Homo sapiens: one gene and its partner. The protein of the gene in region 1 purifies or fractionates together with the protein of each later gene. This does not show direct contact. Each region holds a gene or a part of one and is shown in the gene's direction. Other genes may lie near its edges.

Region 1 (3,585 bases):
AGGCACATTGTTAAGTTGCTTGCTGCAGAGGCCAGAGCTGGGAGCAGGCCCTAAATATCAGGGTTGCCCTCTAAGACTCACGGCCAGTTGAGGGCGTTAGGTGGGGAAGGCACAGGGAGTTGGGGTTCAAGGGCGTTGAGAGCCAGTGGTTACTGTATTGCTGTGTGGTCTTGGGGAAGTGGCTCAGCCTCTCTGAGCCTTTGTGGTCTCTTCTGCAAAACAGGCAACCTGCCTAGTACATGGTGGCGATGACAAAGTGGGCACACATCGCTGACTCAGGGTCTGCCACGTGGCACTGAGTCAACAGCACCCCTCTTCTGGCCTAGGCCTGTGCAGAGCCAGGGTCTGGTGACCGAGGTCGGAGGGCAGGGGCGGCCCATCCAGCAATTCCCGTGCCTGCCCTGACCTCAGAGGGCGGCCGAGGGTTTGGAACTTCTCCCGGAGTCTGAACTCACACAAAGACCGGCTTTGTGGGGGCTCCTGGGGTAGGTGGGTGCCCACATGGCATTCCAAGGCTGGCAGCCTGGCGCTGGGGTGGGAGTGGAGGCTGAGCAGGGTCTGGGGCAGTGAGAGAGACCGGGGGCGGGTCTCAGGCCCTCCCTCCTCCGCCAGTTCTTCCACACTCCCCTCTTCATTCAGCAGATGTTTCTGGAGTCTGCAGGGACACCGTGGATAAGGAATTGGGCCCATGACCTCCCCTGTGGCCTGGGGTGAGGCAGACCAGTTGGGGTGCAGAGCTGGGGAGCAGAGGAGCAATGGGGATGCCTGGGGAACCTGCGGCTCAGAGGAGGCAGAGACTTGGGGGCCAAAGTGATGGGGATGTATAGTTTACCAGGGAAGAGGCAGGGGCTTGGGGGCCAGGCTTTGGGGGGTGTATAGGAGTTCACCAGGGAGGAGATGGGGCCTTAGGGTATTGAGGTCCACAGGGAAGAGTCAGGGCTCCAAGTGAGGTGTGGAGCTTGGTCCTGGGAGCTTTGAGGAGCTGTCAGCTTGTTCTCAGCAGGTAAGGGCTATGCCCTACTCTGAGATTTAGGAAGAATTCCGGAGCTGCAGGAAGGAGGTGGGTGGAGGGGGAAGCTCCAGGGCTGGGGAAACTGGGCAGGCTACAGGGCAGGGTGGACAGAGAAAAGGAGCAGACAGGGACAGGGGGATGGTTCTGCAGTGAGAGGCCTGGCCCTTATGCCTCGAGAGCTGGCCAGGCTCTCACCTTGGCCACCTCCCCAGTCCCAGCCTGGACGGGGGCTGTCCAAGTCAATGTTTCCCTGTTGGAGGAATCATCGGAGCCATGCCTTCCCAGAAACCCCACAAATGGCCCCCTGTGAACCCATCACCCCCTGGCTCACTCGGGGCTGAAGGCCTTGGACATGCCTGTTATAAACCCTGTCGGGGGCCAGGTGTGGTGGCGGGCGCCTGTAGTCCCAGCTACTCCGGAGGCTGAGGCAGGAGAATGGCGTGAGCCCAGGAGGCGGAGCTTGCAGTGAGCCGAGATCGTGCCACCACACTCCAGCCTGGGCGACAGAGGGAGATTCCATCTCAAAAAATAGTAATAATAATAATAATAAAATAAATAAATAATAAATAAACCAACCCTGCGGGGGCAGTGGGACTGGAGGCACTGCCATAGTAATGGGGCTCCTCCACCCTGAACAGCCCCGGGTCTGGGGCTCACTTGGAACCCCACCTCATGGAGCTGTGGGGTGAGGGTGGGGAGTGTTGAGCTGGACCTAGGGGATGGAACGGAACCCCCTGTAACAATCACCTTGAGCCCCTTCTCAGCTCATAGCAAGGATATGATGGGTTTGAGGGCTGGCATCAGACCCTACAGATAGTGGGGTTCAGAAGGGCCTTCTCTGTTTGTTTATAATAATAATCATAATAATAAATACAAAATAAAATTTTTGATTTTTTTTTTTTAGAGATAGGGTCTTGTTATGTTGCCCAGGCTGGTCTCAAACTCCTGGCCTCGCAATTCTCCTGCCTCAGCCTCCCAGAGCACTGGGACCACAGGCATGAACCACAGGCTTGAATTATAGGCTGCAGTGCGGTGGCATGGTCTTAGCTCACTGCAACCTCCGCCTCCCGGGCTCAAGGGATTCTCCTGCCTCAGCCTCCCAAGTAGCGGGGATTGCGGGCACCCATCACCAAGCCTGGCTAATTTTTGTATTTTTAGTAGAGAGAAACATGGGTTTCACCATGTTTGCCAGGCTGGTCTCGCACTCCTAACCTCGATCTCAGGCGATCCGCCTGCCTAGGCATCCCAAATTGCTGGGATTACAGGCGTGAGCCACTGCGTCCGGCATGACACTTTTTAAAGAAACAAATTCCGTTAGGCCCTCTGGGGTCTGTGGTGTTGTCACCTCTTCTGTGTGAGGAGTGCCCCAACGTGCAAAACTGAGGGCTGGTCTGTGTCCCCCGCAGGCCATGGACACCTTCAGCACCAAGAGCCTGGCTCTGCAGGCGCAGAAGAAGCTCCTGAGTAAGATGGCGTCCAAGGCAGTGGTGGCCGTGCTGGTGGATGACACCAGCAGTGAGGTGCTGGATGAGCTGTACCGCGCCACCAGGGAGTTCACGCGCAGCCGCAAGGAGGCCCAGAAGATGCTCAAGAACCTGGTCAAGGTGGCCCTGAAGCTGGGACTGCTGCTGCGTGGGGACCAGCTGGGCGGTGAGGAGCTGGCGCTGCTGCGGCGCTTCCGCCACCGGGCGCGCTGCCTGGCCATGACGGCCGTCAGCTTCCACCAGGTGGACTTCACCTTCGACCGGCGCGTGCTGGCCGCCGGGCTGCTCGAGTGCCGCGACCTGCTGCACCAGGCCGTGGGTCCCCACCTGACCGCCAAGTCCCACGGCCGCATCAACCACGTGTTCGGCCACCTAGCCGACTGCGACTTCCTGGCTGCGCTCTACGGCCCCGCCGAGCCCTACCGCTCCCACCTGCGCAGGATCTGCGAGGGCCTGGGCCGGATGCTGGACGAGGGCAGCCTCTGAACCCCGGCGCCGCCCAACCGCGCCCCTCGCGCCTTTTGGGGCTCTCCTGCTGGGCGCGGGTGGGGTTTGTGGGTTTTTTTCCACCTCTTTTCTCCCAATCGGACTCCGGCCAAACTCCCCTAGACAGATGGGTGACCTGTCTCCTTTGAGAGGATGCTGAGGCATCTGTAGCAGCTGTTTCAAACACCAATGTCACCTCTCCTCCTGGCCCCCGCCCAATGGGGAGAGGAATTTGGGGCCCTACTCTGGGGACCACCTTTCACCCGTTTGTACTTTCTGGGCCACGCCGACCCCTGGGTCGCTTGATGTAAAAGCCAAAAGCTGCTGCCTCCCACTTGGATCATGTCGCCTGGGATTTTCATCCCTCGCACAAGGACTACGGGTTCACACGGTGAACTGGGGGAAGGGAAGTGTTAGGGGGCAAGTCGCGGCACCCCCCCTTCCATAAACTCACGTCCTAACCCCCAGGACCTCAGAAGATGATCTGATTTGGAAATAGGATCATTACAGATGGAATTAGTTCAGATGATCTCATCTTGGAGTAGGGTGGGCCCCAATTCAAGGACTGGGGTCCTTAAAAAAAGGGGGCCTGGGGCAGGGCGC
Region 2 (3,809 bases), on another chromosome or scaffold:
TCTCTCCTCCTCTCTGGAGGGCTTGCATGCAAAGAAAAGTATCTCGAAGAAGAGGGTGAGGGTTTGTGAGAGGAGGAGGAGATGCCTTGGGCTTGAATGCCCAGGAGTGCCTACACCTAAGAGGTACTGGGAGGTTCCTCCAGCCTGCTGTTAGGATTGAACCCTGAACTCAATCATGACTTGACTGGGGCTGGAGGTTTTCTGGAAACTTCTTGCCACTATTGCAACCCCAAGTTGCTCAGACAGATTCCCTCCATTGTTCCTTGGTGAGGGGTTGCAAGTGAGGGGTTCCTTTCCCTCCCCTGGGCTGTCTAACCACATCCTCTCAGTGTCTGCATTTTGCCCCTAGTAGCCTTGTGGGCGCATGCCCGTGCTCAAGACTGAAATGAGGGCAGGGAGGATGGTGCTCAGGGAGGGGACCCTATATTCTTGGACTACCAGCCACTTAGAGAGTCAGGGGATGCTGCCTCTACCTCCCAACTAGGCTTGCAGCCTGTAAGTCTTATGGTAGAGAGGCCAGGCTGGGAGGAAGAGGCGCTCAGTCACAGAGTCTACTCAACCTTTCTGTAACGGGAACAGCCTGTTTTTTGGGGTGCTACTTTAGCACCTTTGCTGAGGAACTCCCAGAGCTGCTTACCACCTCTGACTTTAGTTTTCCCCATGAAGGTGGTCCTCACTTCTCCACCAGGGTTTTCTGAGGAGGTATTAGGGGAAAGTAAAGAGTAGGATCCTGATCAGCCGGGCATGGTGGTGCATGCCTATAGTCCCAGCTGCTCAGGAGGCCGAGGCGAGAGGATCCCTTGAGCCCAGGAGTTCAAGGCTGCAGTGAGCTATGATCGCACCACTATACTCCAGTTTGGGTGACAGCAAAACACCATCTTTAAAAAAAAAAAAAAAGGCTGGGCACAGTAGCTCACACCTGTAATCCTAGCACTTTGGGAGGCTGAGGCAGGAGGATTGCTTGATCTCAGGAGTTCTAGACCAGCCTGGGAAACATGGCGAAACTACATCTCTACAAAAGCTACAAAAATAAGCCGGGCATGTTGGTGCACACCTGTAGTCCCAGCTACTTGGTAGGCTGAGGCGGGAGGATCACTTGAGCCCAGGAGGTAGAGGCTGCAGTGAGCTGAGATCTCACCACTGTACTCCAGCTTGGGTGACAGAGTGAGACCCTGTCTCTACAAAAATAATAACAGGATCCTCATTAAGAGATGGGGAAACATCTTGGAGAGGAGACATTTCTGTGACATGATCCCCATGTATGTTTTCTTGGGAACAGGGACACTTGGGATCTCCCCTCACCGTTGCTTCCCAGAGGTCCCTTGGCATCTGCTTGGTGAACATATCCCTTTGGTTGACTCACGCCTTCCCACACCCTCCCTCTTAAGGCTTCTACTGCTCTCTGATCCTAATGGGAGTAGGACCTTGAGGAGGAGCAGGGATACAGCCAGGAAAGCTCCCCAAAACTGCCTCCCAGCCTTGCATAGACAAGCAGGAGGTTGAGGCAAGGGGAAAGGTGTCAGGCTCAGAGATGAGGATCAGCTTCCTGCTTTGGGGAAGGTTTTTCAGCATTAGGGTAGATCCAGGGACAAGAGACGAATGGGCATTGCTTCTTTGTGCTAGACCCCTTGAAGACAGTATTTTCTAAGCTTCATCTTTGCTACCCCCAAGAGACTGGGAGAATCAGCTCAGTCTGCATCTTTGTGTTCCTGATGAGGAAATGCAGGGGTAGAGAAGTTAAATGGCTCACCCAAGGTCATAGTGCGTGTGAGAGTCCAGATTAGACTCAGCCCCCTCCATCAGAGGCAGAATTTTAGTTGGTAGGATAGCTATCTGGGATCAGGATGGAAACTTTCACAGTCAGTCCTCTTCCCATCCTAGACTGGGATGAAGAGCAGGTGGTAAGGAACAATTCTTGTCACTTTGGAGGAAGACTTAGGGAGGGATGTGAACACCCTGTGAGAAAAGGGGAGGGTAAACTCCCATCTGGGAGTCCCTCTATCTCAGTGTTGTTGGCTTTCAAGCAGTCCAGCCCCTGAGGGAAGACTCAGCGAAAGTCAGAATTCTGTTCCCCTGCCAAGCCCAGCCTTCTTTTGTCTCGATTATCAGAATTCAGTGACGCGCAGCGCCCCCATCAACAGTGACAGCCAGGGTCGGTGTGGCACGCGTTTCCTCACCACCTACGACCGGCGCTTTGTCATCAAGACTGTGTCCAGCGAGGACGTGGCGGAGATGCACAACATCTTAAAGAAATACCACCAGGTATGGTGAGTCCCAAGCCTGGGCTGCAGAGGATGGGTTGGAAGAGGGAGAAGAGAGCCCTGGGGGAGCTTCTTAGGGAGGGGTTGGTCCTCTCTGGTAATGGCAGCTGCTTCTGATCACCAAGCAGTGGGACTCTCCTGCAACCGTATTTCTGTGAGCTGAAATGCCTACTTTAAAAAAGAAAAAAGGAGCCATGAAGGCTCATCGCTGACTGACTCCCAGTTGGAAAGTGTTCACGCACTGGCATCCGCCCCGTTTCTTCTGAAAGAGGCCCCCTCAGCTCGGCAGGCTTGTTTCTTTTCCCGTCCCATCTCTCCACTCATCTGGAACCTGTCCATGAGGAAGGCAGGGAGCCCCGTGGCACCATCTGTGTGTCTGTCCTCAGCCTACTTGGGTCTTCATTTCTGGGGCACCTGAGAAGGGCCGAAGGGAGCTTCTGGTCTTTCAGGAGTTATGGCAGAAACCCTGGGGCATGGCATGGATAAGAGCTTTGGATATGGAGCTGTTCTCTTCTCCCAGATGGCTGGATCCCTGGCCTGCCTCTGCATCCTGTCTCTTCCCTGCGGCATTCCCATATCAGGCTGGCAGAAGAGATGCAAGGTGTGGATCAGGGATTTTCCTGTGGTAGAATCCTACTTTAAACAAAATCTTAGGTGAGATACTAATAATATGAACCCACAGGGGCTCTGAGCCACCTGCTCAGCTTGCCTCTCCCTCTGCCATGCCAACAGGAGGCTGGAGGTGGCTGTTGCCCATTTTAAGCCTGAGAAACCCCTATTACTTCATAGAACCCAGCTGGAGAACTACTGGTCTAGAGGTTAGAATCCCAGGGAGCCAGGGAGCATTTTAGTCTGGGGTGAGCCCCATCCATCCCTGGCACTGCCTGTTCCTTAGTCCTCTCTCTTCTTCCTTTCCATTCTAGTTTATAGTGGAGTGTCATGGCAACACGCTTTTGCCACAGTTCCTGGGCATGTACCGCCTGACCGTGGATGGTGTGGAAACCTACATGGTGGTTACCAGGAACGTGTTCAGCCATCGGCTCACTGTGCATCGCAAGTATGACCTCAAGGTAAAGGGCTCTGTGTTTGCCGGAGCTGTGCCTCCCCTCTATCTGAGCCCCGAAGGGGCCACTACTCCAACTTCCATGTAATTGGGAAGCTGGAGCCTATGTGTTGGCATGGACAGGGAACTCTGGAGTGGATATGCCTGATTCTTGTGGACCAAAGGCAGTTTGAAGTCCAGGTGACAGTAACAGGAGATTATTTAAGCCCTAAATGTGCCATATTTATGCAGCAGTTGATGTTCCTGTCTGTGGAATGTGCACAGTGAGGGAGGCCGTGCTGACGCATGCACTTTAGCATCCATCAGGCCCCCATGGACTGCCAGCACAAGTGCATCTCTAGACTCTGAGAAGGACACACTTGTGGCTGTGAACTAGGGTGCTCCGTGTTCTTGAACCTGGCTTCTGACTTCTGTCACCTTATGCCGCCATCCCTTCCCTCTGTGCTGCAACTGGGCTGGTTTCCTCTGTGTTCCTGCAGTGCCTG

Evidence for each region.
Region 2: the proteins of TNFAIP8L1 (region 1) and PIP4K2B purify together in Homo sapiens (affinity purification with mass spectrometry, with the first as the bait; one large-scale study listed by BioGRID). This does not show direct contact.

What each region holds. Positions count from the first base shown.
Region 1 is NC_000019.10:4,649,449-4,653,033, forward strand, and holds part of TNFAIP8L1 (tumor necrosis factor alpha-induced protein 8-like protein 1), read left to right. Parts: intron 1-2,418; 5' UTR 2,419-2,421; coding exon 2,422-2,982; 3' UTR 2,983-3,585. UniProt on the Homo sapiens protein: Acts as a negative regulator of mTOR activity.
Region 2 is NC_000017.11:38,778,905-38,782,713, reverse strand, and holds part of PIP4K2B (phosphatidylinositol 5-phosphate 4-kinase type-2 beta), read left to right. Parts: intron 1-2,109; coding exon 2,110-2,262; exon of another isoform or gene 2,263-2,264; coding exon of another isoform or gene 2,265-2,267; intron 2,268-2,781; coding exon of another isoform or gene 2,782-2,862; intron 2,863-3,184; coding exon 3,185-3,331; intron 3,332-3,809. UniProt on the Homo sapiens protein: Participates in the biosynthesis of phosphatidylinositol 4,5-bisphosphate. Preferentially utilizes GTP, rather than ATP, for PI(5)P phosphorylation and its activity reflects changes in direct proportion to the physiological GTP concentration.